Homo sapiens: one gene and its partners. The protein of the gene in region 3 purifies or fractionates together with the protein of the main gene of each other region. This does not show direct contact. Each region holds a gene or a part of one and is shown on either strand. Other genes may lie near its edges. The genes, in order: HDHD5, SFXN2, RAMP3 and LYPLAL1.

Region 1 (8,069 bases), on a different chromosome or scaffold from region 3:
CACTGCCCTCAAGCAGCTTAGAGTCCAGGGCATCGAGCTTGTACACGTGTGAGGCCGGAACTTCCCACAGTGTATCTTCTGTTCTGCTACCTTTCCTGAAAAGAACTGGCTCACCTCGGATTCCTGCCAGGAATGGCTGCTGTTTTATGGGGTTTGGGCCACAACTGAGGATGACCGAAAGCAAGGCAGGCCTGGGAGAAAAATGTGGCTCACTTGAGATGAGCAGGGCCCACAGATATCAGTGCTGGGGCACCAGTTGAACAGAACTGTGGTCATATAGGTGTGGCTGGGGGCTGGGGATAGAGAACAGGGAGCAGCATCTGTTCTGGGATGGGAAGTGTATGGTCTCCAGAACATACTGGTCCAGCGTCTGCTCAGAGACATGCTAACTCCTAAAGGAGAGCTTCCTAAAGTGGGTCAGCAGCATGAGCATCCTGGGGAGCTGATCAGATATGCACATCCAAACTCCAAAGGGAGCGCCATCAATCTGGGTTTTTAGGAGACCTCCAGGTGATTCTGATGGATGCTCAAGTTAGAGAATCCTGGACCTCTGAAGCCAGGTAGCAAGGTGGGGCAAGTCAGCGCATAGAAGGCTACAAATTCCAAATATAGTGTAATCCAAGCACCGAAGCCCTCTCTGAGACAAAAGCTGATTTAACAAACCCCACGAGTAACATGTGATTGAAGACTGGCGAGGCCCTTCTAATTAACATCCACGGTCCATTTGTACAACAGACGGTACAAAACATAATCTGGATAAACTCAGAAGACGTGCTCATATAAAGATTTGGGAAGTCTCCAAATTCAATCAAGTGAGCAGAGCAAATATTCTGAACCTGAATACGAAAGAACATCTTAATGTGATTGTGTCGTAACATGACTGGGAATCAAAATAAAGATGCGTTAAGCAACAGCAGGGCAGGGGTTCTGCTTACAATGTCAGCCACAGAGCCTGAGTTTGTTAGTGTTTATTCAGCACTGCCCAAAGGATAGAGCTAGGGGTGGCAGAATATGTGCTCCGTGCATCCGGCAGGATGGGAAGACACCTAGAATAGCACAGGGTAGACGTGAGTGCCCTTGTTCCTGGAAGTGCAAACTCTTTAACATGGCAAGCCTTAGCTGTGAGATTTCTCCTTAGAGGATGGTTCTTACCTTTTACTGGCTTATGAACCCAGAGAATCTAATAAAGACTTATCACGTACACACACAGTCTTTGATTCAATAATCATGTTGGAATCTCCCACAGTGCACCTTCTGTCATCTTTCCCCGAAACAAACAGACAAACAAACCAAACCAACTAAAACAACAGCAAAACCCAGCCCATTTCTGGTTCCTGCTTTGGATGGGCTGGAATGGTCTTATGGCATTCAGTCCACAATGGAGGAAGAATGAAAGCAAGGCAGGCCCATGTGGGGAACACTGCTGACTTAGGCTGAAACTCCTGAAGATTAATAACACTAAGTATGACACAGTCCTGATCACCAAGAATATTAGTTATCTTTTGCTGTATAACGAATTATCCCAAAGTGTAATGACTTAAAACAACAAACCTTCAGTATCTCCCTGTTTCTGAGGGTTAGGAATTCAGGAGTGACTTAGCTGGGTGGTTTTGCCTCAGGGTGGTTCATGAGGTTTTGGTCAAGGGTTCCGCCAGGAATGGAAGCTCCACCTCCAAGAAGATTCTCTCTCCTGACTACTGGTAGGATGCCTCAGATCCTCACCATGTGGGCCTTTCTATAGGGCTGCTTGAATGGCCTCACCACATGACAACTCTACTATGCGTCTAGCTTTCCTAGAATGAGTTATCTAAATGAGGGCAAGGTGGAAGTCACAGTATCTTTTATGACCTAGCCTTGGAAATCAACTACACTCACTTCTGTCCCATGTTATTTATTAAAAAGTCAGTGAAGTCCAGCCCACACTCAATGGGAGGGGAATTAGAATTAGACTCCAGGTTTTTTTTTTTTCTTTTTTTTTTTTTGAGACAGAGTCTCACTCTGTTGCTCAGGCTGTAGTGGCACAATCTTGGCTCACTGCAACCTCTGCCTCCTGAGCTCAAGCGATCCTCCCACCTTAGCCTCCTAGAATAGCTGGGACTACAGGTGTGTGTCACTATGCCTGGCTAATTTTTTTTTTATATATATATTTTGTGGAGACAAGGTTTTGTCACGTTGCCCAGGCTGGTCTGGCATTCCTGGACTCAAGTGATCCACCTGCCTCGGCTTCCCAAGTGTTGGGATTACAGGCATGAACCACCATACCCACCCAACTCCAGCTTTTTTTTTTTTTGGAGACATAGTTCCGCTCTGTCGCTCAGGCTGGAGTGCAGTGGCTCAATCTCAGCTCAGCTCTCTGCAACCTCTGCTTCCCAGGTTCAAGTGATTCTCCTGCCTCAGCCTCCCAAGTAGCTGGGATTACAGGCACACACCACCATGCCTGGCTAATTTTTGTATTTTTAGTAGAGACAGAGTTTCACCATGTTGGCCAGGCTGGTCACGAACTCCTGACCTCAGATGATCCACCTACCTCGGCCTCCCAAAGTGCTGGGATTACAGGCATGAGCCACTGTGACCGGCCTTTTTTTCTTCTTTCTTTTTTTTTTTTTTTTGAGATAGAGTCTCACTCTGTTGCCCAGGCTCGAGTACAGTGGCACGCTCTCAGCTCACTGCAACCTCCACCTCCCAGGTTCAAGCGATTCTCCTGCCTCAGCTTCCCAAGTAGCTGGGATTACAGGTGCATGACGAGCTAATTTTTGTATTTTTAGTAGAGACGGGTTTCGCCATGTTGGCCAGGCTGGTCTTGAACTCCTGATCTCAGATGATCCGCCTGACTTGGCCTCCCAAAGTGCTGGGATTACAGGTGTGAGCCACCGCGCCTGGCTATGCTTTTGAGGAGCCGATTGTCAAAAAAAACTGTGGGCATGTTTAAAAGCCATCATACCAAGAAATTTCTAATGACTAAATCAGTTTCTAGGTAGTTTAATAGAAGGAAGGGATTAGGAACATTGCAATCCTAGAGAGCTATGTCCCCTGGCAGGGTTTAAGTGTCGGGCTATTGTGAGTTTGACTGACTTGAATTAGTCTTCCAAATTCTGATTAGCTGTAGTTGAACTGAATTAAGATCTTGCCCTTCAAAGCTGAGGACCAAAGGACACCGCTAACTACTTCTTCATTTTATTATTATTATTATTATTTTTTTTTTTTTCAAGACGGAGTCTCACTCCGTCACCCAGGCTGGAGTGCATTGGCGCAATCTCGGCTCACTGCAACTTCTGCTGCCTGGGTTCAAGCGATTCTCCTGCCTCAGCCTCCCGAGTAGCTGGGACTTGAGGCGCCTGCCACCGCGCCTGGCTAATTTTTGCAGTTTTCAGCAGAGACGGGGTTTCACCATCTTGGCTAGGTGGTCTTGAACCCCTGACCTCCTGATCCACTCGCCTCAGTCTCCCAAAGTGCTGGGATTACAGGTGTGAGCCACCGCACCCGGCCCTATTTTATTATTTTTAAAATAGAGAAGGGGTCTCCCTATGTTGCCCAGGCTGGTCTGGAACTCCTGGACTCAAGTTTTCCTCCCACCTTGACCTTCCAAAGTTCTGGGATTACAGGGGTGAGCCACCGCACCCTGGCCTGCTAATGTGTGAGCTAGTGCAGTCTCTGTCCATATCCTCGACTCCCTCTCTGCTAGTGCTAAGTACATTGTAGGGTCCCGCGTTTTTAGCATAGCTATACCTATGAATGGGCCAAAGAATCTGAGGGCATCCTACACATTTCAAACGGTGGGAATGGAGACCTCTTTCCTCCAGCAGAATCTCCCCTCATGACCGGGGGACTACCAGATCCAGCTCTGCTAAGGGCCTCCACGGACGGAGTCGGCTACCTCTCCACTTTCAGTGACCGAAATCCATTCTTTGTTCATTCACCCTTGTGTCTACTCCGGGAAACGCGCAGCGGACACAGTCGTGTTCCCTAAGTGTTTGCTGACTTAGTCATCTGGCCCTCTCTGGAGTAGTCATTTTGTACCTTGTACTACATTCGTGCCTCTACCTCTCCGCAGTGCGCGCGGGGGCGGACTCACGTGCGCAGTCTCCCTATGCGCTGGGAGGGCGTCAGCAGGTTTACAGAAACAATGAAAGACTTAACAATTGGCGCGCGACGAGCGTCCCTTGACTGGCAGGGGCCCAGAGGACCTGAACATCACTAAGGGTCTGCCCCAGCGGCCCGGCCCTGAAGTCAAGGTTGAGACCCCCGGCCCAGACAGTCCGCGAAGCTGAGGGAGGCCGGCCTGGGGCCTGCCGCGCAATGTTACCGGGATCCGCAGGCACAGGGCGATAGTACGGACGCCGCCGCCCAGGCCGTGCCCATTGTGCGCCGCGGCCAGCTCACCGCGATCTCGGTCTAGGAGGCGGCGGGACCCCGCACTTCTTCCTTGCAACGGAGCCCCTTTGGCCTGCGGGTCGAGTTCCATAGGCGCCCGACGGGCTCCGCGCGCTTACAGGACTACAACTCCCGTGATGCCGCGCGCGCCGACCGCTGATTGGCTGTGCAGCGGACGGACTCGCGGGGGGGGGGGGCCGCACGCCGTGCACGTGCGCACGGCGACGGCCGGATGGCTGCGTGGGGCTGTGTGGCTGCGCTCGGCGCGGCGCGTGGGCTTTGCTGGCGGGCGGCGCGCGCGGCTGCGGGGCTCCAGGGCCGCCCCGCCCGCAGGTGCTATGCTGTGGGCCCCGCTCAGGTGAGGACGTCCGGGTTCTGGCCGAGCCACTCGCCACTCAGGGCCGGAGGCGGGGCGGGGAGCCGCGGGGAAGGAGGGGCGGCCGGGCTGGTATCCCAGCCTCCTGGGAACTGCCTGGACCGTCGTCGCGCCCGAGTGCATCGCGTTCTTGCTGGAGGGCGGATGCGCCCTGCCTTCCTCTGACTCGCTGGCGGCCTCGGAAACGCTACTCCCGCGGGAGAGCGCTCGTGGGACGGCCTGGGCCAGGCTGCTTGTCAGCCCCTGCGCTTCCCGGCAGTTTCCGCGTCCCTGTTTTCCCTGCGCGTCTTCTGATTTCCACCATGAGGACGTTTGGGTCGTGATTTTCATCTGCATGTGGAGGAAACTGGGCCGCGCGCCGGGAGCCGCGCCTGCGGGTGCTCCGCCCCCAAGTGCCTGTGGGTTTGGTGCGGGCCTTGGGTTCAGTTCAGCTCGCTGTGACCTCGACTGAGCGCTGGAGGCTCCGCGGGCGGGAGCAGGAGGGCTGGAGCCGGCGCCTGCTGTGTGCCCGGCGCGGTAGTGATGTGTGAGCCTCCCCGCAACTTCTGAGAAGGTGTGACCTTGTGTGGTCAGGAAGCCGAAGCTTGACGAGTTTTCAAGTACGTTTTCTCAGGTCCTGCAGCTGGGAGACGGCACAGGACACTAAACCAGGTTGGTCAGATCCACGGCTCTCACGCTCCCTTGGGCCGTTTTGCCTTTTCTGGAAAAAGGAATCACTTTGTCTTCTAAACGCACAAGTAATATTTTACATTAACATACGGATTTCACAGTAATCCTTGCATTTTTTTTTTTTAGACGGCATCTCTGTCACCAGGTTGGAGTGCAGTGGCGCAATCTCTGCTCACTGCAACCTCCGCCTCCCGGGTTCAAGCGATTCTTCTGTCTCAGCCTCCCGAGTAGCTGGGATTACAGGCACCCGCCACCACATCCGGCTAATTTTTGTATTTTTAGTAGAGACAGGGTTTCACCATGTTGGCCAGGCTGGTCTCGAACTTTTGACCTCAGATGATCCTCACATCTTGGCCTCCCAGAGTGGTGAGATTACAGGCATGAGCCAGTGCACCCGGCCAAATTACTTGCATGAAAAAAACACATAGTGCTTACTTTGTGCCAGGCACTATTCTAAGTACTTCACAGTTATTCGTATAATCTTTATAACAACTCCGAGGAAAGTACTATTATTAGTCTTCCCATTTTATAGATGGAGCAGAGGCACAGAGAGGTTAAGCAGCTTACCCAAGGGCACACAGCTGGTAAGTGGCAGAATCTGGAACTCAGGTAGTCTGGTGCCAGAGTCTAAGCTCTTAACAGCTGTATTATTTTTATGATTTTTAAATATGGAGCAGCTAAGGTTCAAAGCAGCTGAGTGACTTGGCCAGTGTCACATAGCTAGACGTGACCAAGGTGGAAGTTTGAAATTAGAATATGTTGATAAAAGGACTTACAAACTGTCAGGATATAAATATAAGGAAATATCGCCCTTATTTATAACTGTTGTATTGGCTCTAGCATCTCTGCAGAGTCCCGAAATGTCTCCAAGTGACTCTTCCGGTAGAGCAGAAAAAGAAGAATGCAGGATGACAGAGTTTGAGCACGAGCTTTAGAATTGAATCCTGTGCAGTCTGTTAGCGGCTTCACTTAAGGCAATTTACATAGCTTTCCAAGCTCAGTTTCCCCATCTATGTAATGGATCTATTACTTGTAATCCCAGCTACTCGGGAGGCTGAGGCAGGAGAAGCCCTTGAACCTGGGAGGGAGGTTGCGGTGAGCGGAGATCGGGCCATTGCACTCCAGCCCGGGCAACAGATCCTGACTCTTATCAAAAAAAAAAAAAAAGAAAATTAACCTTAGTTTAACTTTCTTGCTTTACCAAGTTTTTAATTTTTAAAATTTTTTACTCTTTTGTAATAGCACTTAGTTTAAAACACAACACATTGTACAGCTGTACTAAATATATCTTCATTTATATCATTGTTCCATAGCTTTTTTCTTTTGTGTGTGTGTGTGTGTGTGTGTGTGTGTATGTGTGTGAGACGGTGTCTAGCTCTGTTGCCCGGGCTGGAGTGCAGTGGCGCCATCTCGGTCCACTGCAACCTCTGCCTCCCAGGTTCAAGTGATTCGCCTGCCTCAGCCTCCCAAGTACGTGGGATTACAGGCGCCTGCCACCACGCCCAGCTAATTTTTGTATTTTTAGTAGAGACGGGGTTTCACTGTGTTGGCCAGGCTGGTCTCGAACTCCTGACCTCATGATCCGCCTGCCTTGGTTTCCCAAAGTATTGGGATTAGAAGCATGAGCCACCGTGCCCAGCCAGCTTTTTTTTTTTTTTTGAGACGGAGTCTCGCTCGCTCTGTTGCCCAGGCTGGAGTGGAGTGGCGTGGTCTCGGCTCACTGCAAGCTCTGCCTCCTGGGTTCACATCATTCTCCTGCCTCAGCCTCCGGAGTAACTGGGAGTATAGGTGCCTGCCACCACGCCTGGCTAATTTTTTGGATTTTTAGTAGAGATGGGGTTTCACTGTGTTAGCCAAGATGGTCTCGATCTCCTAACCTCGTGATCTGCCCTCCTTGGCCTTGCAACATGCTGGGATTACAGGCAGCTTTTTTCTATTAAAAAAAATTACAGGTGTGCACCACCACGCCCGGCTAATTTTTTGTATCTTTGGTAGAGATGGGGTTTCACCATGTTGGCCAGACTGGTCTCGAACTCCTGACCTCATGATACGCCCGCCTTGGCCTCCCAGAGTGCTGGGATTACAGGCGTGAGCCACAGTGCCCTACCTTAAAAAAAATTTTTTTTTTTAACTTTTGTTAAAAATGAAGACACAAACACCTACTAGCCCAGGCCTACATAAGGTCGGGTCAGGTAATTGATATCACTGTCTTCTGCCTTCACACCATGTCCCATTAGAAGGTCTTTAGGGGGCAGTCATATGCATGGAACTGTCATCTGCGATAACAGTGCTTTCTTCTGGATATCTTCTGAAGGACCTCTCTGAGGCTCTTGAGGTGTCACTCTTATCAGAAATATGTCCATTGTGGTTTGCTTGGTTTCTTTTTTTTTGTCATAGGTTTGCTTGTAAACAGATAATGTACCATAAACATTCTTCTCTAGTAATGAAAACCTTTTGGCGTTGGAGTTCATGTTTCAGACTTTTTAAGGAACTTGAGGTCTGTAAAAGCTGCTGAACCCTTCACTGTGAATTTTCTTGGATGTTCTTTTCTTTCTGTGGCTACCTTTTCTCTTGCCTCTTCTTCAGCTATGAGTTCCTGTTCCATTATAATCTTAAGGGACCATTGTATATGCAGTGTGTCATTGACTGAAAC
Region 2 (7,107 bases), on a different chromosome or scaffold from region 3:
TAATTTCAAGGTTAGCAGCACTCCCAAAGAAGCTGTCCGGGCTGGGTGTGGTGGCTCATGCCTGTAATCCCAGCAATTTCAGAGGCTGAGGCGGGCGGATCACCTGAGGTCAGGAGTTCGAGACCAGTCTGGCCAGCATGGTGAAACCCCGTCTCCACTAAAATACAAAAATTAGCCAGGCGTGGTGGCAGGTGCCCTGTAATCCCAGCTACTTGAGAGGCTGAGGCAGGAGAATCGCTTGAATCCAGGAGGCAGAGTTTGCAGTGAGCCGAGATCGCGCCACTGCATTCCAGCCTGGGCGACAGAGCAAGACTCCATCTTGAAAAAAAAAAAAAAGAAGCTGCCTGACCAGGGGGCAACGAGGAGGAGGATGTGGAAGGGTGATGAGCCCCAAGGGGACAGAGTCCTTTCCCCCTTCTTTTTCCTGAGTTCAGCTAGAATTACATGGGTAAAAGTTTCCATTGCTTGGGAGAGGAGGAAGCGAAGAAGAAAGAGGTATAGAAGCTTCCTTTTGATCCAAGGTCTTTTCCTCAACCCTGGCTGGAACCAGAATCCTAAAGGTTTCCTAACTTTTCCAAATGATTTGCTTGGATGTCTCCTCCCTGAGAGGGCCTCAGCTTCTGGTCTCCAGGGGACAGGGGTTGAGGAAGCAGCTAGAAGACATTGGCCTTTGCTACCCTTTTTCACTTTTTTCCCCTGAGGTCCAATCAACCAGTACCAGGGTGTAAGTATGAGGCATTCATTGTCCCACCCCCCAATCTACCCTGGCCTTCAGGCCTTGTTGGCAAAGGGGAAGGAGGACACAAGTGTGCACGTAGCTAAGGAGGAGCTGGTGAATATGGGAATAGACTGGTCCTTGCTGAAGTGGGGCATTTAGAGACCCTTATTGAAGTAGACATAAGGCTCAAGTTCTCCATACTTGGCCTTGATAGTGTCTTGGAGCTTCGGTTCCAGATAGGAAACTGGCAATTCACTGAAAAGAGAGAAGTGGATTATGAGCATGCCACCAGGAACAAGCAGTAAGTTACCCTCAGATGAATATCACCTCCAAGAAGCCCTCCTGATTTTTCCATCTAGGATTATTATTGGCCTCTGTATACCACAATGTTGCTTTACCATTACGCAGGCCTGACTTCATTCTCCTTGGGCTATGGTTCTTCGTTTCAACTTCCATCTTCTCCACAAGATTACAAACACAGTGCTTGGGACACAAGAGATGTCTAGCAGATGACCATGGAAGTAGTATTGAACTAGAGTACTGAGGAAGGGGAGACTGGAATTGTCTGGGTATATATTCAAGCTACACTTGTCTCCTGGGGTCAGTCACCCTCCACCCCCTAGTCTGATGTATCCCTTCCCTTTTCCATCATCCCTTCTCCCTGCTTCCTCCTTCTTGGACACACAAAGGAAATAGAGGGGTTTCGGTTGTCAGCCCTCTGCCTGTCCCTTTATTTATTTATTTATTTATTTACTTATTTATTGAGATGGAGTTTCACTCTTGTTGCCCAGGCTGGAGTGCAGTGGTGCAATCTCGGCTCACCGCAACCTCCACTTCCCAGGTTCAAGCAATTCTCCTGCTTCAGCTTCCCAAGTAGCTGGGATTACAGGCATGCACCACCACACCCAGATAATTTTGTATTTTTAGTAGAGACGGGGTTTCTCCATGTTGGTCAGGCTGGTCTTGAACTCTCGACCTCAGGTGATCTGCCCACCTCGGCCTCCCAAAGTGCTGGGGTTACAGGCGTGAGCCACCACGACCAGCCCCCTTATTTAATGTTAACGACCAACGGGGAACGGTGGCTCACGCCTGTAATCCCAATACTTTGGGAGGCTGAGGCGGGCAGATCACCTGAGGTCAGGATTTCAAGACCAACCATGGCCAACATGGTGAAACCCCATCTCTACTAAAAATACAAAATGAGGCCAGGCGCGGTGGCTCACGCCTGTAGTGCCAGCACTTTGGGAGGCTGAGGCGGGCGGATCACAAGGTGAGGAGATTGAGACCATCCTGGCCAACATGGTGAAACCCCGTCTCTACTAAAAATACAAAAATTAGCTGTGCGTGGTGGCACGTGCCTATAATCCCAGCTACTCGTGAGGCTGAGGCAGGAGAATCGTTCAGGGAGTCGGAGGTTGCAGTGAGCCGAGACTGCACCTCTGCACCCCAGCCTGGCGACGGAGTGAAACTCCATCTCAAAAAAAAAAAAAAAAATGAGCTGGGCATGGTGGCAGGCACCTGTAATCCCAGCTACTCTGGAGGCTGAGGCAGGAGAATCACTTGAACTGGGAGGCGGAGGCTGTGGTGAGCCGAGATCGTGCCACTGCACTCCAGCCTAGACAACAAGAGTGAAACTCCATCTCAAAAAAAAGAAAAAAAAAAAAGTTAAAAACCAGATCCAGCCAGAGGAGAGCTTCCTAATAACCCAGCTGGCAGGAAGAGAAAGTCTGTTGTTGCTCCCCCACCTTCTCTTCAAGGCAGTGCTTGCTCCACTGGGAGGGAGCAACCTTATTCCTGTCCCTGGCTTCTCCTGCCCCTCGCAGATCTGTTTTCGTTTGTCAGAATTCACCAGGGTTAAGAGGCCCAGCCTTTAGGCTGATGGACACTTGTCCTCAGACAGGTGCTGCCCTTCCTGCCCCTTCCCTGTCTCCTTCTGGACAGCAGGCAGATCAGGGAGCGCGCTGGCAGCATGGTCAATTAAACCAAGTAAGGAATGAACAGCAGATACCATTTCTGTGGGAAAAGCCCACACGCCACTGGCACCATGAAGATGAGGCTGCAAGAAAGGAGAAACCAAAGCATCAGGGGACATCTCCCCACAGGCCCGTCCATCCCCCATCCCCAAGGGAAAGGAGCAATGCCCAGGCACCTGGCCTGCCTTCCCAGCTGGCACCATATCCTCTCCCTCCAACCCTCCTCCTGTTCCCGCAGTGCGAGGATACTCATTCTGGCAGGGGGATAAAACCAGTACCCTCCTGACCCCCATCACTCATTCCCACCCTTACTGCATTGTTCAAGCAGAGGAAGAAGACAATGAAGTAAACAGGGACTGTGAGCAGCAGGCCTAAGGAGCACAGGCACTGCTGGCATCGAGCGAAAGGAGCGACGAGGAGGGAGAGGAGAAACTTGGAGGGGGAGGAGCAACATGGAGGGGGAAGAGCGACATGGAGGGGAGGAGCATCATGGAGGGAGAGGAGGGACATGGAGGGGGAGGAGCGACATGGAGGGACAGGAGCAACTTGGAGGAACAGCATGGAGGGTGGGGAGCGACTTGGAGAGGGAAGAATGACTTGGAGGTTGAGGAGCAACTTGGATGGGGAGGAGCGACTTGAAGGGGGAGGAGTGACTTGGAGGGAAGGAACTACTTGGAGTAGGAAGAACTACTTGGACAGGGAGGAGCAACATGGAGAGGGAGAAGGACATGGAGGGGAGGAGCAACATGGAGAGGGAGGAAGGACACAGAGGGGAGGAGGGATGAGGAGGGAGAGGAGCAACTTGGAGGGGGAGGATTGACTTGTATCGGGAGGAGTGACCAGGATGGGGAGGGGCACTTTGGAGTGGGGGAGGGGCACTATGGAGGGGGAGGAGTGAGTCTGTGGATTCTGAGACCTGCTTCTTTATTGGTTGAACACCTGGGCTGTCAGAGCACAGTGAAAGGCAGTTTCTCCAGCTTCACTGTGCATATAACTTCAGGAGCTTATTAAAATGCCAGGTGCCAACTGAGGGGGTCTGGGGAAGGACTTCAGAGTCTTTACTTCTAACAAGTTATCAGAGGATGCCAACGATGCTGGCATGGACCAGGGTTTGGGAGGCAAGGTCTTACAGGACGCGGGACTCTGACAGACCTGGGTTGGTATCCCAGTTTTACCACTTACTAGCTGTGCCATCTTGGACAAGTTACCTCAGAGACACAGAGGGAGGACAACCTACTTTTTAGGGCTACTGCAGACCACTTTGCAGTGCCTACTTTGCAGGGTTACTGTGAGGATTCAATGAGATATGTATGTAAAGCACCCAGCCCATGGTAACTACTCAATTAGCAGAAGTTGGTATAGCATAATGTTAGACTGTTGATCAAATCTCAGCTCCAGCAGTTACCAGCTATATACCCTTGGGCAAGTTTCTTACTCTGTCTAAGTCTCAGTTTCTTCATTTGTAAAAGGAGATGATAATAATATGTAGATTTCTAAGGCTGGGAGAATTAAGTGAAATTATAGATATGAAACACTGGGTTCAGTGGGGACACAGAGAAAATATACAGTCAGTGTTAGCTGTTAGTGATGCTGTCATTAGTCTCGTGGCCCTGAAATGCATGGTGAACGCTAGGACATCTCCAGTTAATGGCAGATACCTAAGAACCCTGACGTGACTGGTGGCATTTCCCTCCTGTGTGAGTCTGGGACACATGACAGTCCCAGCCAAAGCTATGTCTCCTCGTTCTTATCTCTTCTGTAAAACTGCTCCAGACAGCCAGGCGCAGTGGCTCATGCCTATAATCCCAGCAATTTGGGAGGCCGAGGCAGGTGGATCACTTGAGGTCAGGAGTTCGAGACCAGCCTGGCCAACATGATGAAATACAAAAATTAGCAAGGCATCATGGTGCGTGCCTGTAATCCCAGCTACTCAGGAGGCTGAGGCAGGAGCATTGCTTGAACCTGGGAGGTGGAGGTTGCAGCGAGCTGAGGCTGCGCCATTGCACTCCAGACTGGGCGACAGAGCGAGACTCCATCTCAAAAAAAAAAAAGCAAAAAACAAAAAAATTGCTCCAGACTTAAGGTCAAAGGAGAGACCCTGGGATGGGAGGGCACCTCAGCACTGGACTTCCTACATGGACACGTGCATAAAGTCTAGCCAGCCTGATGCCCTCACAAAAGATGGGGTGAGAGCTTTCCAGATGGACCACAGGTATTCTGAGCTTGACCACTTTTAAAGTCAGGTAAAGGAGTACACGTTCTCCAACACGGGCTAGACAAGACGACACATCTTGAGTGCTCCAGCCACGCAGAACCCAAATCATCAAAATATGATACTTACAAGCACCCGCTCAGCATGACCTGCAATGGGGCGTGCAGGACCTTGACTTTCTGTATAAAAACAAATAAAAGACAGATCCACATGGTACTTCTATGCCTTAAGGTGAACCCCAACCCTGCTCTGCCATGGATCAGCCAGCTAGAAAAGCCCACAGGTGGCTGGGCGCAGTGGCTCATGCCTGTAATCCCAGCACTTTGGGAGACCGAGATGGGCAGATCACAAGGTCAGGAGATCGAGACCATCCTGGCTAACACAGTGAAAACCCGTCTCTACTAAAAATACAAAAAAAATAGCTGGGCGTGGTGGCAGGCACCTGTAGTCCCAGCTGCTCGGGAGGCTGAGGCAGGAGAATGGCATGAACCCAGGAAGCGGAGCTTGCAGTGAGCCAAGATCGCGCCACTGCACTCCAGCCTGGGCGACAGAGCGAGACTCCATCTCAAAAGAAAAAAGAAAAACCCACAGGCAAGGACCCCCTGGCCCTTAAAGAAGGCCTTGTTCTCTGCAGACCAGGTAAGGAAACTGGCCATGGTATATCTAAACAGGAGGTCAGTGGAGATTGGTGTGGGCTTGAGTGAGATGACAGCATGGTAGCTAAAGGGAAGGATGGGTGGGGGAGGGCAGGTCAGGTATCCCTAGGGACAGATGTGGCTGGACGCACTCTGGGCAGGGAAAATGCCAAAGCAAACCCTACATACCTGCATGAAGTGCAATTTCTCAAGCCTTTCCATGATGACTGGCAGCAAGACTGGAAGAGACCAGGGAGAAGCTGAGGGGAGGGCTGGGAGGCTCTCCCCAGGACTCCTTCTGAAGTCAGACCAGGAACCAAGTGGTTCCCTCTCCTTCAGCAGAAGCTCCAGAAAATACTTACCACTAGGCAGAACAGAAGAGCAAGTAGGCATGACCACCCCCAAACTTTCTCCCCAAAGTCCTGGCAGAACAGTGCTTCCCAAGCTTCTCAACCTGCACACTTGCAATATCAGGAAAACATGTGCTGCTAGGTCCAAAGCTACCTTCTCAAAACTCAAAAATGTATTTGTACGTTCGTGCAAACAAATTTTGCAATACACCCACTGCTGGAAGCAAACCAAAGCAGGGAATTTATTTTCTCTATCACTCTCCCTAGCACCCCACACTGTGTCTAACATTAAACACAAGGGCTTGACAAGTATTAATAAAATGAAAATAACTTTCTACCCCAAACCTTGGATGAACTGATGTTCTAGGAACTAGTGTGGTTCTTCTAGGCTTACAGCAATCAAGCAAAGCAGTTTGAGAAGCATGGCTGTAGAAGGTGGGCCCCACCTCCCACCCAAAAGCTGAGTGTGGCTGAGACCTCCACCCTGTGTCACAGGCTTCCCCAGGATGGAAGGGCTTCCCCATCTTACTCATCCCAGGAGCTGACATGGTGATCCGAGAAATAACTACTTGGGTGATGCCTATGGCCGCAGCTCTCTGAGGGCAGAAAATAGTAAGTTGTCAGAAATGATGTATCCAGTGTACATGTGCTGCACCAGGGGGCTGGGTCAGCATCATGGCCAAGTCTGAGATGGTAAAGGGGAAGGGAAGGACCCTCCAGTTGCTGAGTGACCTCACTTTATCCCCTCCCACCTAGCCAGGTTTTTATGGACCAGAAATGATGGAGAAAAGAGAGAAGGGGCCTGTTCTGAACAGAGAAACATGGGGAAAATTTGATAGGGAGTGAGGATGGAGCCAGAAAAGGCTTCTCAATCCTATATTGGTGCCTACTCTGACCACTAAGGAGGGGACAGGGTATGAGAGGGAATTCCCTCCTCCCACCCCAAAGGGAGGCCTCTGCTCACCCGGGAATGACCAATCTCATTTTCATTCCTGTCCTTCACGCAGATTCCCTTTATGAGCTCCCTAAACACAGACAGGAGTTAATGGACTTGGGAAAGGGGTGATGGAAGCCTGCCAGCCACATGACATGCCAGGGGACCAAGGCCAGGCCACTTAAGCTCCAGGAAGCCACCTCCTGTAGCCTGGGCCTTTGACCTTCCTTCTGCACTCCAATAAGCAGTATCTTAGGAGTGATCTAGGGCAGTGGCTGAGAGCGG
Region 3 (7,751 bases):
GAGCCACTGATCTGGCCCATCAACAGGAAAGAGCTGCCTCCTGCATGGAACATCATCTGGGCGTAGATTTCCCAAAGCATCAGAAAGGGGTAGGAAACAGGGACTCTGACCTACTCCACCCAGGGTTCTCCTGGTCTCCCAACCCCATGCCCCAGGAAGGGTCTGGGAAGCCCAGGTACAGTCACTCAGCCCAGCTCCTGACTGATCCAAGGCTGGCTCTCAGCACCTTGGAATGTAGGTCAGACACACACCTGTGCCTTTCCAGGTAGTGTCAGCAGAGAACAGCCAGAGCAAAAGAAACAGCCTCGAATCCAAGTACAAAGCTGTTGGCTCTCCTGGGCCTCAGCCACAATGCAGCACCTGAGACATGCCCAGGCATTAGAGACACCTCAACAGCTAGGTCCATGGACAAACCCTCATCTTCCCTGACCTGCTTCTCCCACAGGGCCTCAGATTCAGTAGCCTGCTGTCCACCCCAACCCCCCGCCAGCTGATCCAGGAGCTGGGGAGCCGTCTAACAACACCCTGCAACAGCCTTCACCTTCAGAAGTTCCCAGCATCTATGTGTGTGATGAGAATCACATGCGGTAACCTCTGTGCCTCCAAAGTCATTCCACTGAACTGCTACCCAGGAATGCCACCCCCCAACAACCATCCCCAGGGCTGAGATGAGCCAGACAGACCCTGGAGAAGACCCTCTGTGGACAGCGAGTCTACAGGGCAAGAGGAGTGATGTCTAGCCCCAGAACCGTCCCAAGAGGAGGTGAGGCAGGGCTGAAAGCCCCTGCTGTTCCCAAACCCCACTCCCAGCCAAAGCTAGGCCACATGGAGAAGCCCACGGAGCAGAGGTAATCCCAGAAGACAGCATGGACAGTGGCTTCAGGCTCAGGTTGCAGAGCCAACATGGCAGGGCCTCTCCAACTCCAGCTCAGCCACTCACCATCTTTGTGGTATGGGCCATGTCATTTATCCTCCCTGGACCTCAGTTTCCTCATCTGTAAGTGGGTTTAATAACACTTATCCTATCAGGTGGTTGAGAGAACCAAATGAGTTGAGGTCCATGTGCCCCAGCAAGTGCCTGGCACAGAGGAGGTCATGGGGTGAGCCCACCCCAGCTGTTAGGTTTGGGGCAGAGCTGAGCACAGCACCCATCTCTGTGGATCCACAAAATCTGCATTTTTGTCACATATCTAGAGAGGTCCACATTCAGTGCTTCTCTAGAAAACCGGGAACTACTTATGATTTATTCATCCCCTGGATAATCTGGGGCCTCTCCACTCCTCCTTCAGTCAGGCTCCCCAGAGCACTCTCCCTAAAAAAGATGCACCACAACCCAGGATGGGAAGGAGAGGAGCCCAGCAGGCTGGAAGCCGGGCAAACCCCCCAGTCAGACTCCCTCTCCCCCCACCCACCTCTGGGGTGTTTGCCCACCTTCCTTTATGTTTCACCACCTGAGTGTGTTCCCAGGCAATATAGTGTTGCATTTGGAAATCCCATAGCAATGCTCCTTAACTGGGTACAGAAGGAGCCCATTGCTGCTATTGGAGGGAGGTTCCCAGGAGAGGACACGCTCTGGTTGCCCCGAGGGGCAATGAGACTCCTCCCCAGGGAAGGCCACAGGCAGGCCATGGGCGAGTTTGGGGAATAGGGTCTTCCCAGCCATGACTCGACTCCTGATGGGGTCGTCATGTGGACCAGTCCTATTGAGGGGAGCAAGCCACCTCTCCTCTAAGCTCACCAAGGCCCACCCTGCTTCAGTGGGGACCAAAGCAGAATGAACATTCAGGGGAAAGAAAGGAGTGTCCTTCATTCTTGACTGAGCTGGGCTGCAGGGCATGGGCAGGCAGTCACCATGTCAGGTAAGCATCAAGTGCCCTCCACCTGGGCCAGGCTGCCTCCACCCAGGGTGTACTGCCACGCTGGGGCACCGCCCTCCCTGGGGCTTCCCTCTCCTGCCTTGGCTCCGCTCCCCAAATCTCATAGCTTCTTTTGTCGTGGTTTGCTCCACACCTTGGCGCACAGCCGCCAGAGCTTGAGAAAGGTATGTGGGAATCAGATGCTGGAGGTGCCACACGTCTGACAGTATTTTCGTTTCTCCCTAATTAGTGGACAAATTGGCGGGAAATAGCACACTAGCTGAGAAATCACAGTCCGAAATTCTCAGGTCCTTGCATCCCACAGTCCTCGGTTTCCAGGGCTGCGGTGGGGGAGCCTGAAGGCCTCTGATCCCCTCATCTCCAACCTAGAGCTCATTTTTTTCCTCCTTCTGGATAGGTGTAGAAGTTTTCCTTTGTTTCCACAGCTCTGATATTCCAGGGTCCATGTGGGACATTTTCCTCCCTCGTGCTAGTACCGGGCAAGCCCTCACCGGCTGCAAGCTCATGCCCTCAGCCCCTGGCAAGGGCCCTTTATCCTTCCATTCTCCTGTTCTCTTTCTAGAATTCCTACTATCTTGGTGTTACGCCTGGACTGACCACTGACCTCCTGATCATCTTCTCTGTCTCTCTCTCCTATTCCTGGGAGATTTCCTCAACATCTCCCTTCCAACCTTTCTATTCCATTTCACTTCTATTGCATCTTCCATTTCTAAACCTCTTTCTTTGTTCTCATTCATCACATGAGAGATAGTTGTTGCCCTCTGAAGATATCAGTCGTGACGTTTGCAGTTTTCTTCTTGGTGCATGGCCCCCGGGTTTGCTTGGTTCCATCTCTCTGGTCTCTGTCCTTCAGGGTCAGAGCCTTAGGTCAGATTTCCAGGGACCCTGCTTGGAAGTGACTCGTGACTGGGAGTGGGGACTGAGAGCTGATGAGACACTGGGACCCTGCAGAAGAGCTTGTCCCCAGAGCTTCCAGGGGTTGGGGGGGTCACTGCTTCTAGGTCCTTCCTCTTGGCTGGTCTCACTCCTCAGAAAGGACAGCTCCAATCCTACCCTAGACCACCCTCCTGGACCCAGTGGCAAAAGATAATGCGTATCAGCCGCTCTCTCCAGCCTCCCTCTCTGGGACACTGTGCCACGTTCTCAATTACATGGGAAGGCCCAGAAACCCTGGTGTCACCAGCTCCAAGAATACACCTCCAGTGTCCAGCTGGGGTGGAGGAGGGCTCTGGACACCTCACTGCTTCTCAGCTACTCTTGCCACTCTCTTGGGAGCTGGTGCTGCCGGCCGGGTCGTGGGAGGGCTCCGCAATGTCAACCTGGCTGTTCCCAGCTCCCCTTTTCCAGCATCAGGTCTGACTTCACCAAGGGCACTCAGTCAGTGGCTCTTGCCCACTCACTCACTGGCTCCTAAATGCCCATCGGGTTGCCTCCACTCCTGTCCTCCCAATCCACGGCTGGACATCTCTATTTAGTCTCTTTACCAAGGCTTTAGCGGGTTACAGAGAGGAGCAAGACCAGAAGCTACGAAGCTATGACCTCCTCTTCCCTGACTCCACCCCCACCAGTGGGTCCATTCCAGGCCTGTGTCCAGGCTCACTGAGGACCAGGAGGAGCCTGCAAAACCCCTTCCTGAATCCCAGCACCCCTTCCCAGCAGACTCAGAATTCCATTCCACTTGGTTCAGCAAGCAGTTCCCCCACAGAGTGGGGCTGCAGATGTGACAGCCTCAAGAAGCCCCCATCTGCTGGGCCACTAGAATGGCCAGGGCCGGGGAGGCTTCCTGGGGCAGGGCCATGGTCAGTGTCTCTACGGAAGACAGGGGCTGGGGTGCTAACATGCAAAAGCATGAGGCCAGCACATTTAGGGTCTGGCAGCAGCCACCAGGGGGTGGCACAAGACTGCAAAGCCAGAGGTGGAGTGGGGTGGGGCAGAGGACTGTGAGGCCATGAGCAATTTCCAAGGAGGTAAGGAGATGAAAAGCTTGGGAAGCTTCTAGAACAAGGGGACCTCCCTTCACTATGAGGTGTTGTCCACAATTACACCTGATATAAACCATTGGAACCCAATTCCTCTAAGTCCTCTGACCACTGAGGACAGACCCAGCCATGACTGGTGCTGTAAGAAAGACACATGACAATGTCCACCCAGCTCCAGCTGTAAGGAGAGGTGGAGCACCCTCCAGGCAAGGCATCCCCCAGGCCAGGGCACCCCCTGGGGTAGGGCAGCACCCACCCCTGGGAGAGTGCACCCCCCAGGCCAGGCCACCCGCAAACTGGACACTCCCCGGGCAGGGCACCCTCCAGGCAGAGCACCTCCCAGACAGGGCACCCCCAGGCCAGGGAACCCCCGAACTGGACACTCCCAGGGCAGGGCACTAATCTGGATCAGGAGGAAAAGCAGGCATGGGGAGGATTCCTAAATAACAGAGGAGAGGGAGAAGCAGAGGCACAGTGTAGAATTGCTAGAACATCAGAGTGAGGATGCGGAATGGGGGGTAGGAAGCTGGGAACCCGCTGTGGGTGTGGGGAGCACAAATGCCGTGGGCAGGGGCACGGCATGGGCGGGGCCGTGAGTGATGTGCCAGGGGGATGTGGGTGGGGTGGCCAGAGCCAAGAGCAGAGTGTGAATAGGAGCGTGGTTGGGGCCCTGGGCAAAGTGTGGGGCAGCACATGAAAGGGCTGTGGGTGGCCTACGGTGGGTTGTGGGTGAGGCATGGGTGAGGCCTTGGGTAGAGTGCGGTCAGGCTGTGGTCAGGCAGTGGTTGGGCAGTGGGCAGCGCTGTGGTCAGAGCAAATCCCACGCCCAGCAGTGGCACTCACACGATGAACTCGGACAGGTTGCACCACTTCCAGACGTCCACCTTGCCCATCATGTCTGCGAAAGCCTTCCCACACAGGGGCAGCCTCTCCAACATGCCTGTCTCGTTGCAGCCGCCTGCTCTGGGACACCCACCTGGAGAGGGGACAGCCATAAGAATTCCACTACAGTTCACACTGGGGATGCCAGGACAGGGGAGGCCCAAGGGGCCATAACTTGAGTACTCACTAGCAAGGCTCCGTTTGCAAGCCTGAGACCGTTCCAGCGGAGTCCTTCACCCTCCACCCTGACCTACCTGTCAGTGCAGAAAGGAGGCTCCACACAGGGACCTGTCCCCAAGACAGGACAAGTCCACCTTTTCACTTCACCGCCTCACAGGCAGTGGCACAGGCAGGGATCAGGCAGTGAGACCCTGGGCCAAACTCCTTGGGAGGTGGTGAGAGGGTCTCAGGCAGATCAGGGCTGGCAAAGAGGCTCCAGTTCCAGCTTAGGAGTCCCAGGGGCCTGGGAACATCCTGAGGACTCTAAGACCTGGGGACCATCCCACTGCCTGCAGGGGCGGCAGAGGAGGGCTCCAGGCCAGTAAAGACCAACCCCTCCCGGTCAAAGACCCCCTCCAATTCTGGGAAACCAGGGGCTGAGGCCACTGCAGGGACTCATGTTCCCAGCAATGGGAATGAGTCCTTTGGACTTTCTCAGGGTCTGACACAAGCTGCTTGTCCCAGGATTTCCCCACTGCCCTTCCCAACCTCTGCCCACCAAAACATCCCCTCCCCTTCCTCCTCATGCCTTTGCTCCACACATTTCCCCATGGGGAACATCCTCCCTCCCACTGAGCAATGCCCCCTGTCCTTCAGGGCCTGTCTCCACGGTCATCCCATTTCCAGACGACAGGACCTCCCTGCTCCTAAACTTCCCTCACCTGACCTCTGCTTTGGTGCTCATCATATACTCAAGAGAGACCCCAGGCATATGTGTCTCGGGTGTGTGTGTGTGTGTGCACGCACAGCCCTGCTGTCTGTGTCTTGGTGTGTGTGTGTGTGTGTGTGTGTGTGTAGGTACACAGCCCTGCCATCTATATCTTAGTGCATATGTGTATGCATACATGAGCATGTGTGTACACAGCCCTGTCATCTGTGTTCCGGCGGCTGGTGCTGGGCTAGAGGAAATACCATGAAGAAGCAGATAAGAAAATGGTTCCAGATTGACATGGGACAGACCTGGCTCACACCCACACTTCACTGGTTACCAGCTCAACCTCAGTTTCCCCATCCGCAAGATGAGGGATACAGGCCCCACCTCACAAGGAGGTTGAGCTGGCTAACTTAGTCTGAAATGCTCAGTGCCACCTCCAGGAACGTATCATTCATTCATTCCCTCAATAAGTCTTGGCTGAATGATAGAGAAAGCAGTGAGCATTTCAGAGTCTGATCTTCTTCCATGTGTGGCTCACCCTGGGCACTGAGCAAGTGCTGAATAAGTCACTTTAATATGGAAATGGCAGGTTTAGACAGGACCACTTTCTGGTGCAGGGACCTGCTCCACCAGAACACAGCGCCCCAGACACTCCTCAAGAGTCATAGCCTGCTTAATGCTAACATTAGGGAAGACCCTGGAAGCCCCTTGGTTGAACAAGCGTCTGATGCCAGCAAAAGGGAGTGGCTTGTCTAAGGCCAAAGGAAGGCTGGAGGGGTCCAGATCCCAGGGTTAAGGGAACTGTCATGCTCAGCCCACCCCCACCTGCAGCAGAACACCTGGAGCACATACAGAGGACAGGTGTTAGCTGGAACCCCACAGAGGAGAACACAAAAGGGCTTGCCAGCTGTTCAGGGTCGTGGGTTCCCAGACTCAAGGCACCTTCTTCCCTTCGTGACTGCCCAAACCTATACCTCAGAATCCAGGCTGACAGCACTGAGAAGGGCCCCTGGGGGTCACAGCTGGTAAAGTTGGACAGAGGACTTGCAGGTCCCAGCAGGTGGTCTGAGAAGCCTGTGTAGGCACTCACATCTCCCCTTCTGTCCATGCAAGCTTCCCCAGGACCCAGGGCATCTTGAGGCCCCAGAGAACCCTGGAGATGGGAAGCACACAGGCTGTGGCTCAGTGGTCAGCCTGCTGCCATGTGTAAGCAGATGGCAAGGACACAGGCTGGGTGAAGTCACCACCATGGCCCCTGGACACAGGGTCAGTGACTGGCTCTCCCAGAACAGGTGTTTCAGGGCCTTCTGGCCACTCTGCATGGTTTCCAGCACCTGGAATGTCCCTGACCCCCACGTTCGCTTGTCTCATCAGCACAGCTGCAGGCCTGGATTCTCTGAAAGGCCACACATCCCACTTAGGGCCCCAACCCCTGAGTGAGCCTCTGGGGTGCTCACCTCTCTTCACAGAAAGGCCATGTGCTCATTCTGTGTCTGTCCCATCCCTGCATGTAGCACAGGTCCCCCACATGGTCCCACAGGGTCTGCACATGGAGATGGTGGCTCAGTACCCACTGTCAACCCAGTGAAATTTATCCAAAGATTTAGCAAAACATCCTGGACCACCGCTATCATGTGTTGCGGACTGTGTTGGATCCTTGGACAAGGGGAGAGGGAGAGGGTCTGGTTCCTGTCTTCAGGACCTGCCATCTGGGTTCCAGGGGGCAAGAGGAAGACACAGGGATCTCAGTCCAACTAGGGGAGTGACTGAAGATAGAGCATATAATAGATGGGGCAGAACCCAGGACAGAGTGTCAGGAAGTCTCACCAAGATGCACAGGCCATATAGGGGCTGCGCATACAGGCAGCCACAGTCAGAAGGAGACCTGAGCTCCGATGTCAGTGGCGGGAAGGGGACATGACCAGGGCTGCATCAGGACCACTGAAAGGGATGGTGCAGTGGCTATAGGGGGATAAAAAATGCACAGGCCCCATCGGGATCACCTAAGAGGACTTGAGCTGCCCGGGTAGCAGAAGGAGCGTGGAGCAAGATGGGTCCAGGTGCCCAAAGCAACATGGCTTCAGCAAATACCAGTCAATGGCCCAGAGATGGACCAAGAACAGCAGCCAGTGTGGGGAC
Region 4 (7,751 bases), on a different chromosome or scaffold from region 3:
GAAATTCCCCCAAAATTCAAGGCTTAGGTGTAAAAATGAAAACAAAAGTCTTAAAAGAAAATCTGGGCTACTATATATAAAAAATGTATGGATTGGCAGGAGCTTCTTAAGCAAATCTAGAGACCCAGAAATTTAAATTTTTTTTTAAAAAGACATTATATCAAATGTAGAGTCTTTTGTCCAGTAAAAAAAAAAAAAAAAAAAACCCTTAAGTACATAATAACGTAATATCAATATTCAAAATAGACTTGGAAGAAAATACCTGAAATATATGCAACAAATATTTGTCAATAATAGACAAAGTACTCTTTTAAACAAGAAAAAAATTGAAATGACAATAGGAAAAAATAATAGCAAATGACATCAGTCAGCAATTCCACTTATGTGGAGTTTTAGAACAGGCAAAAGAAATCAATGTTGATAGTCTCACTCAGTAGTTGCTTGGGAAGGTTACGGGAGTTGCTCGTGAAGGGGCATGATGGAATTTTCCAAGGAAAAGGAATGTTCTGTATCATTGTGGAGATGGTGGTTGCATTGTAAAAAGTAATTGAACTATACACCTAAAATGTGTGTAGTTCAATATAGTTTATATATGTAAATTATACCTCAATAAAGTTGGTTTTAAAACTTCAATTGATACTCTTAAATGGTAACATTTTAATGTATGTCAGCACCTACTGCTATTACTGCTGTGGGCAAAAGGATATTTTCCTACCTTTCCTGTAGAAAGGTAAATTTTTACAACTTTTATGGAAGCAACTTTGAGACATCTATTAAGACAAAAATTGTACCTTTTAATCCAACCTGTTTCTTGACTCTTTTCCATAGGAATAAAAGTTCCAGTAGATAAAAACACGTATGCATATGTTTAATGAAGCATATTTCTTAGTGGCTAAAAGCTGGGTACCAAATTAATTCCCATTATTAGGGGAATGGCTGATTAAATTGCAGAATATGCTTATCATAGGATATAATATAGCCATTAAAAGGGTAAGTTAGAACTGTAACTGATGAAAGGATTTCCATGAGATATTGTTGAAGGAAAAAAGCATGATGCACATAATAGAATCAGATAGACTACTTTATTTTTGAAAAGAAATAGTGTGCCAAGAAATAGCCTGTAAATATGCATATTTTAATTTATAAGAATAACATTGAAGGATATATTTCAGATCATTTACACAGTTTACCGAATGTAAAGGACAAGATGTGTGAGGGAGTTGGAGAGAAGAGGAGGAATGTAGAGATGGGTAAAAAATGAATAAGATTGACATGAAAAACATCTAAACAATGTATATATATATAATCTCATATTTAAAAAATTTTATGTATCTGCATAAACTTAGGGAAAACATTTAAGTTTTTATGTACTGACTTTCAGAGGTATTCATCATATCCATTTAAATTTTAGAAAATGTGTTACAAAGTAATGTTTATATGATTCTATTTGAGTAAATAAAAGATCCCCGTATATGAATTTTTGTTAAATTTTAGTCAGTTCAACTTTCTTGTTTCCAGGTTTTTTTTTTAGTTTCTCTGAGAAACTTTCCAAATATAACCTTGACGTTCAAGCCCCTTAAGTGGATGTCCATTTATTTTGGGGTGGTATGATCAATATTGAAAAATGGTGTAATTTTGTTCCCTTCCAGCACCACCCACTGGTCCTAAAGATTGTATGCATCCCAAGGCCAATGACAATTGAATATTTCTAGCTCCTTGAATATGCTGAGGTTCTACTTGGGTTTTTCACTAGAGAAGAAGTACAAAAGCATGTTCAGGTCTCACCTGTTGTCTTTTAGCCGTCTATTTTTGTTTTTCAATTTAGCTGCACATTTCATGCTTTTACTTTACTAACTTTGGTGGGTGACAGTATACAGCTAAATTTGAGATGGCAAAGTAGAGGAGGTATTGGTGTGGAAAGAATCCTGTGTCTGGGTTCATCAAAGGGAAATATTACTTGTCATTGGTTTAGAGTTCTTTCAAATTACTATAGGCACTTTTGTCACTGGCTATGTTTTCTTTGCCACTCTGTTTCTCATCATTACGTGAGGAGAAAGCAGGGCATGCCAAGGGATAAGGATTATCTTCTGTGCAACTCTTCCGTTTTTCATATTTGGAAAACATTTGTTCTCTGTGTTTATCTAATATAGCCCCCATCCCTCTCTGTGTTTGCCCACAGAAATCTCTAAGGTTTTTTTTTGTTCCCCTTTCATTTACATCTACCAACATAATACTTGAATACAGGACCCCCTTTACTCCATTACAGTTTGGAATATCTTGATGGTGTGTGTGCCTGTGCACGTATGTGTGTGTATTTTTTTTAACCAACATAGTATCCCAGAGCATGAATATACAATGAATGGATTAAGATTCACTGGTACTGTAACTGTTCTCCCTCTTAAAAGATGGAGGGAGTAGGTAAAGAGGATATGAACTGGCATTAGTAGATTTTAATGGATTAGATACAAGTATGGGATAGTTAATACAATATACATGAGAGTAGTTTTAATATGCATTTAACTTATAAAACTTAGAAGAAATTGAAATCATTTATTCAAAACACTATTATTTTGGTAATTAAAGCATCCATTTTCATATTCCCTTTTCCTTTCTTTTTTTTTGGGGGGGGGCGGTTGTTAAACAGATCATATACTCCTATGAAAGGAGGAATCTCCAATGTATGGTTTGACAGATTTAAAATAACCAATGACTGCCCAGAACACCTTGAATCAATTGATGTCATGTGTCAAGTGCTTACTGATTTGATTGATGAAGAAGTAAAAAGTGGCATCAAGAAGAACAGGATATTAATAGGTAAGACCTTTAAATGTTGGTAATTTATCACTGTTCACTTTTGTCTAATTCTATACATCAAATCTTACTTGGAACATTATTTAGAAGCACTTGTATATCATTCGATGCATTCATAGTTTCAGATAAACTTTACATATTGAGGATTTCAAAGATATTAGAATTATAAACAGCAGCGCATGAAACTTTAATTGATTTTCTTTTTGAATAATAACGGATTTTGAGACTCTTGTGGCAGTTAAAATTTTTCTTCTAGTTTAATTTTCAGTTAAGAAATTATTCATTTCAATTTTTAAAACATTTTACTTCAGTTACCTTAACTCTTATGAATATAAGTTTAAACATCTATTGCCATTAAGATATACAGTCAAAATATACCACTACATTTATGAAAATTATAATCTTCAGAGTTAATCTCACAAGAATATTTGTAAATTTTTGTTAGACTGTCTTTAGCAAGCCCTGTTCCTAAGGGAATATAAGTAGCTTTATATAAGCTCTTTATTCTGCTTAATACCTTTTTCTGTTTCTGGACTTAGCATATACATAAATTATTAAAATCTTTTTCTAATACATGCAAAAGTGAGATGGGGCATGTAGAATATGAATGGTACACGACATATTTTGGTGAAAGGGTTTTATTTCCAAATGTAACTATTTAACTTACAATGAGTTGTATTTAATGATGAAATTAAAAAGCAAATTAAGTATCCCCATTATGTTCTAAATAACATTAAAATGCACATTGAAATTCTTTATAGATGGGATTTGGGTAAACTAATAAACTTTCTTTGTGTTTATTGAAGTGCTGAACTGTCTGTTGAGTCATGAGAGACAACATGATATAATGGATAAAATCCATTCTATTCTGTCTTGGCGTTAGTTTCCACTTTGTTGAAAGCAGCGTGGCCTCTAGCATAACAACATCACCTTTCTGGTCCTTAGTTTCCTCATTATGTTTAACTCTATATTTCTGTGTTTCCATGTTTAACGTTGATGTTTAACTCTAATAGAGATAAACATGGAGCATTATGGGAGGACTAGGAAGAGTGTAGGGAAGGGATTCCCAACTTAGTCTAGGGGATTATGAAGTAGTTAGAAGATAGAATTCCAAACATGTGAATCATGTATCATTCAGTCATCATTCAATCTTTAGCAAGTATTTTTTAAGTCCCCACTATGTGCTACGCATTATTATAGATGTTCACGGGGATGTGCAGATAAGTAAAGCAAGATCTATCTGCCTTACATATTTCTTACAACCTGAAAGGGCCAATGAGATTCTTAAAGTGGTAACTATAATGCCAGCCAGGCTGTGATGAGTGCTCTAATGTGGTATAACTAATAGCTTTTCAAAGCCAATGATAGTATATATTTCTTTTTATTTCCCAGAACCTATCACAATGCCTGGCACAGAGCAAATACTCAGGAAATCTATAACAAATAACATTACCCAATCAATAAATTGTCAGTACTGTAGGAATTGAGAGGAAGAAGTAGTCACATGCATTTGGGGCTGTAAGAGAAAGATTTAATAGAAAGATGGCAGTGGCATTTAAGATGCACAAATTATTAAAATTTTAACTATTACAGTGTAGAAGTCTAGGTAGAGGGAATGATTTGTACAGTAAAGTAGAAGTGGACAGAGTAATGCTTTTTGTTTTTGTCTGTCTGGACAGTAGTTGGCTGTAACAAAGTTTGTGTCTAACTAAAAAGTACCTGTTGACTCAGATAGCCACAGTAAGAGACTAGAACGTGATGGCATAATGGTGACAAAAATGAGTTCAAATCTACAGTCCACCACTTCCTAGTTGGCTCACCACTTATTACCTACACTTAATTTTTGCTACCTAATCTGTAAAGTGGAAATAATAATATAATATCTGTTTACTGAGAGATGAACAAACTATTTGGTTTCTTCCAGACTCTCAGTAAATACTCTGTTCAGTTTTTAATCCTTTATTTTGTAGGTATAATAACATGTAATAATTGGTAAAGGATCATTAAATAATGTCTTCAAGTCATAAGAATTGTACTTTGAAAAACTAATTTGGCAGAAGGGGTAAGTAAAAGGATGAGAAGTCTGACATGGAGAAACCAGTATAATATAATGAAAGTCTGAAGTGGTGTGGTGGCAATAGGAAAAGAAAAGATCAGGATGAGAAATTGCTTTAAAAAATAAAAGTACATTCTTCATAAGCAAAAAAATAGATAAAAGGAGAAAATACTCTGAGTAGTACTCTTAATGAGTGTGTATTGAAGAGTTTATCACACTGAATGGTAACTGCTGTCCATTTGTCTCTTGCCCCATCCTCTCTCTTCCTTTCCCAGATCCATTACTTTATCTAGTTCATCTTTGAGTACTAGAGATATTATGGATTTTCTGCAGTATATTACATTTTAAAGAATCCTAGTACAACAAAATCAAATCTTTTAAAAATTTTAATTTTATTTTAAGTTCCAGGATACATGTGCAGGACATGCAGGTTTGTTACATAGGTAAACATGTGTCATGGTGTTTTGCTATACCTATTAACCTATCACCTAGGTATTAAGACCTGTATTCATTAGCTGTTTATCCTGATGCTCTCCCTCTCACCGCCTCCCTGACAGGCCCCAGTGTGTGTTATTTGCCTCTCTGTGTCCATGTGTTCTCATGGTTCAGCTTCCAACATGCAGTGTTTGGTTTTCTGTTCCTGTGTTAGTTTGCTGAGGATAATGGCTTCCAGCTCCATCCTTGTCCCTGCAAAAGACATGATCTTGTTCCTTTTTATGGCTGCATAGTATTCTATGGTGTACATGTACCACATTTTCTTTACCCAGTCTGTCATTGATGGGCGTTTGGATTGATTCATGTCTGCTATTGTGAATACTGCTGCAGTGGACATATGTGTGCATGTATCTTTATAATAGAATGATTTATATTCCTTTGGGTGTATACCCAGTAATGAAATTGCTGGGTCAGATGGTATTTCCGGTTCTAGGTCTTTGAGGAATTGCCACACTGTCTTCCACAATCCTTGAACTAATTAACATTTTCATCAACAGTGTAAAAGTGTTCCTGTTTCTCCACAGCCTTGCCAGCATATTAAAAATTCAAAATTCAAAAATTCTTGAATTTTTAATAATTGCCACTCAGACTGGTATGAAATGGCATCTCATTGTGATTTTGATTTGCAGCTCTCTAATGATAAGTGATGTTGAGCTTTTTTTCATGTTTTTTGGCTGCATAAGTGTATTCTTTTGAGAAATGTCTGAAGAGTCATTTATGACAAACCCACAGCCAGTATCATACTGAATGGACAAAAGCTGTAACCATTCCCCTTGAAATCCAGCTCAAGACAAAGATGCTCTCTCTCACCACTTCTATTCAACATAGTATTGGGAGTTCTGGCTGGGGCAATCAGGCAAGAAAAAGAAATAAAAAGTGTGTTCAAATAGGAAGAGAAGAAGTCAAACTGTGTCTATTTGCAAATGACATGATCCAATATCTAGAAAACTCTATCGTTTCAGCCCCAAAGCTTCTTAAGTGGATAAGCAACTTAAGGAAAGTCTCAGGATACAAAATCAATATGTAGAAATCACAAGCATTCCTATACACCAACAGTAGGCAAGCAGAGAGCTAAATCATGAATGAACTCCCATGCACAATTGCTACAAAGAGAATAAAATACTTAGGAATACAAAGGACTTCCTCAAGGAGAACTACAAACCACTGCTCAAGGAAATAAGAGAGGACATAAACAAATGGAGAAACATTCTATGCTCATGGATAGGAAGAATCAATATCATGAAAATGGCCATACTACCCGAAGTAATTTATAGATTCAATGCTATGCCCATTAAACTACCATTGACATTCTTCACAGAATTAGAAAAAACTACTTTAAAATTGGAACCAAAAAAGAGCCCATATAGCCAAGATAGTCCTAAGCAAAAAGGACAAAGGTGGAGGCATCATGCTACCCAACTTCAAACTATACTACAAGGCTACAGTAACCAAACAGCATGGCACTGGTACAAAAACAGACACATAGACCAATGGAACAGAATAGAGATCTCAGAAATAAGACCTCACATCTACAACCATCTGATCTTCAACAAATCTGACAAAAACAAACAGTGGGGAAAGGATTCCCTATTTAATAAATGGTGCTGAGTAAACTGGCTAGCCATATGCAGAAAATTGAAACTGGACCCCTTACTTACACCTTATACAAAAACTAACTCAAGATGGATTAAAGACTGAAATGTAAAACCAAAAATTATAAAAACCCTAGAAGTAAATCTAGGCAATACCATTCACAACATAGACATGGGCAAAGATTTTATGATGAAAATTTCAAAAGCAATAGCAACAAAAGCAGAAGTTGACAGATGGTATCTAATAAACTAAAGCACTTCTGCACAGCAAAAGAAGCTGTCATCAGAGTGAACAGACAGCCTACAGAATGGGAGAAAATTTTTGCGATCTATCCATCTGACCAAGGTCTAATATCCAGAATCTACAAGGAACTTAAACAAATTTACAAGAAAAAGAAAACCCCATTAAAAGGTGGGCAAAGTACATGAACAGATGCTTCTCAAAGCAGAAACAAATCTTAAATGAAGTTAAACACACATATAAAAACAGTAGCAGGAGAGGTTACCTGTTTGAGCACCTATATTTTCTTAGAGGGAATCATGTCTTACCAGCCAGATTGCCCATAAACCTCAAAAAAAGTCACCTGGGAGAAAAATATAACACAAGACTTGATTTTTCAATGTCTGTAAGCCCCCTCAAACCCCAAACTTGGGGCTCACTGAATGAAGATAATTTGTTTTTCCATTTTCTTCTTGAGAAAAAGATGATTTTTAAAAATCAGTGCCTTTGATATATTTTCAAAGTCCGACAATGTGATTGATTAAATCAAGTCTCTTGTTGAATTTTTCTAATGCTC

Evidence for each region.
Region 1: the proteins of RAMP3 (region 3) and HDHD5 purify together in Homo sapiens (co-immunoprecipitation; 2 studies listed by BioGRID and IntAct, with this or other methods). This does not show direct contact.
Region 2: the proteins of RAMP3 (region 3) and SFXN2 purify together in Homo sapiens (co-immunoprecipitation; 2 studies listed by BioGRID and IntAct, with this or other methods). This does not show direct contact.
Region 4: the proteins of RAMP3 (region 3) and LYPLAL1 purify together in Homo sapiens (co-immunoprecipitation; 2 studies listed by BioGRID and IntAct, with this or other methods). This does not show direct contact.

The regions. Positions count from the first base shown.
Region 1 is NC_000022.11:17,155,786-17,163,854, reverse strand, and holds the start of HDHD5 (haloacid dehalogenase-like hydrolase domain-containing 5 isoform 2 precursor), read left to right. Parts: upstream 1-4,577; 5' UTR 4,578-4,603; coding exon 4,604-4,729; intron 4,730-4,862; exon of another isoform or gene 4,863-5,398; intron 5,399-8,069.
Region 2 is NC_000010.11:102,731,529-102,738,635, reverse strand, and holds part of SFXN2 (sideroflexin-2), read right to left. Parts: intron 6,914-7,107; coding exon 6,853-6,913; exon of another isoform or gene 6,829-6,852; intron 6,485-6,828; coding exon 6,418-6,484; intron 5,778-6,417; coding exon 5,728-5,777; intron 5,083-5,727; coding exon 5,033-5,082; exon of another isoform or gene 5,028-5,032; intron 2,775-5,027; coding exon 2,727-2,774; intron 974-2,726; coding exon 874-973; 3' UTR 1-873. UniProt on the Homo sapiens protein: Mitochondrial amino-acid transporter that mediates transport of serine into mitochondria. Involved in mitochondrial iron homeostasis by regulating heme biosynthesis.
Region 3 is NC_000007.14:45,174,390-45,182,140, reverse strand, and holds part of RAMP3 (receptor activity-modifying protein 3 precursor), read right to left. Parts: intron 4,833-7,751; coding exon 4,700-4,832; intron 1-4,699. UniProt on the Homo sapiens protein: Accessory protein that interacts with and modulates the function of G-protein coupled receptors including calcitonin gene-related peptide type 1 receptor (CALCRL), calcitonin receptor (CALCR) and G-protein coupled estrogen receptor 1 (GPER1).
Region 4 is NC_000001.11:219,190,438-219,198,188, forward strand, and holds part of LYPLAL1 (lysophospholipase-like protein 1), read left to right. Parts: intron 1-2,644; coding exon 2,645-2,814; intron 2,815-7,751.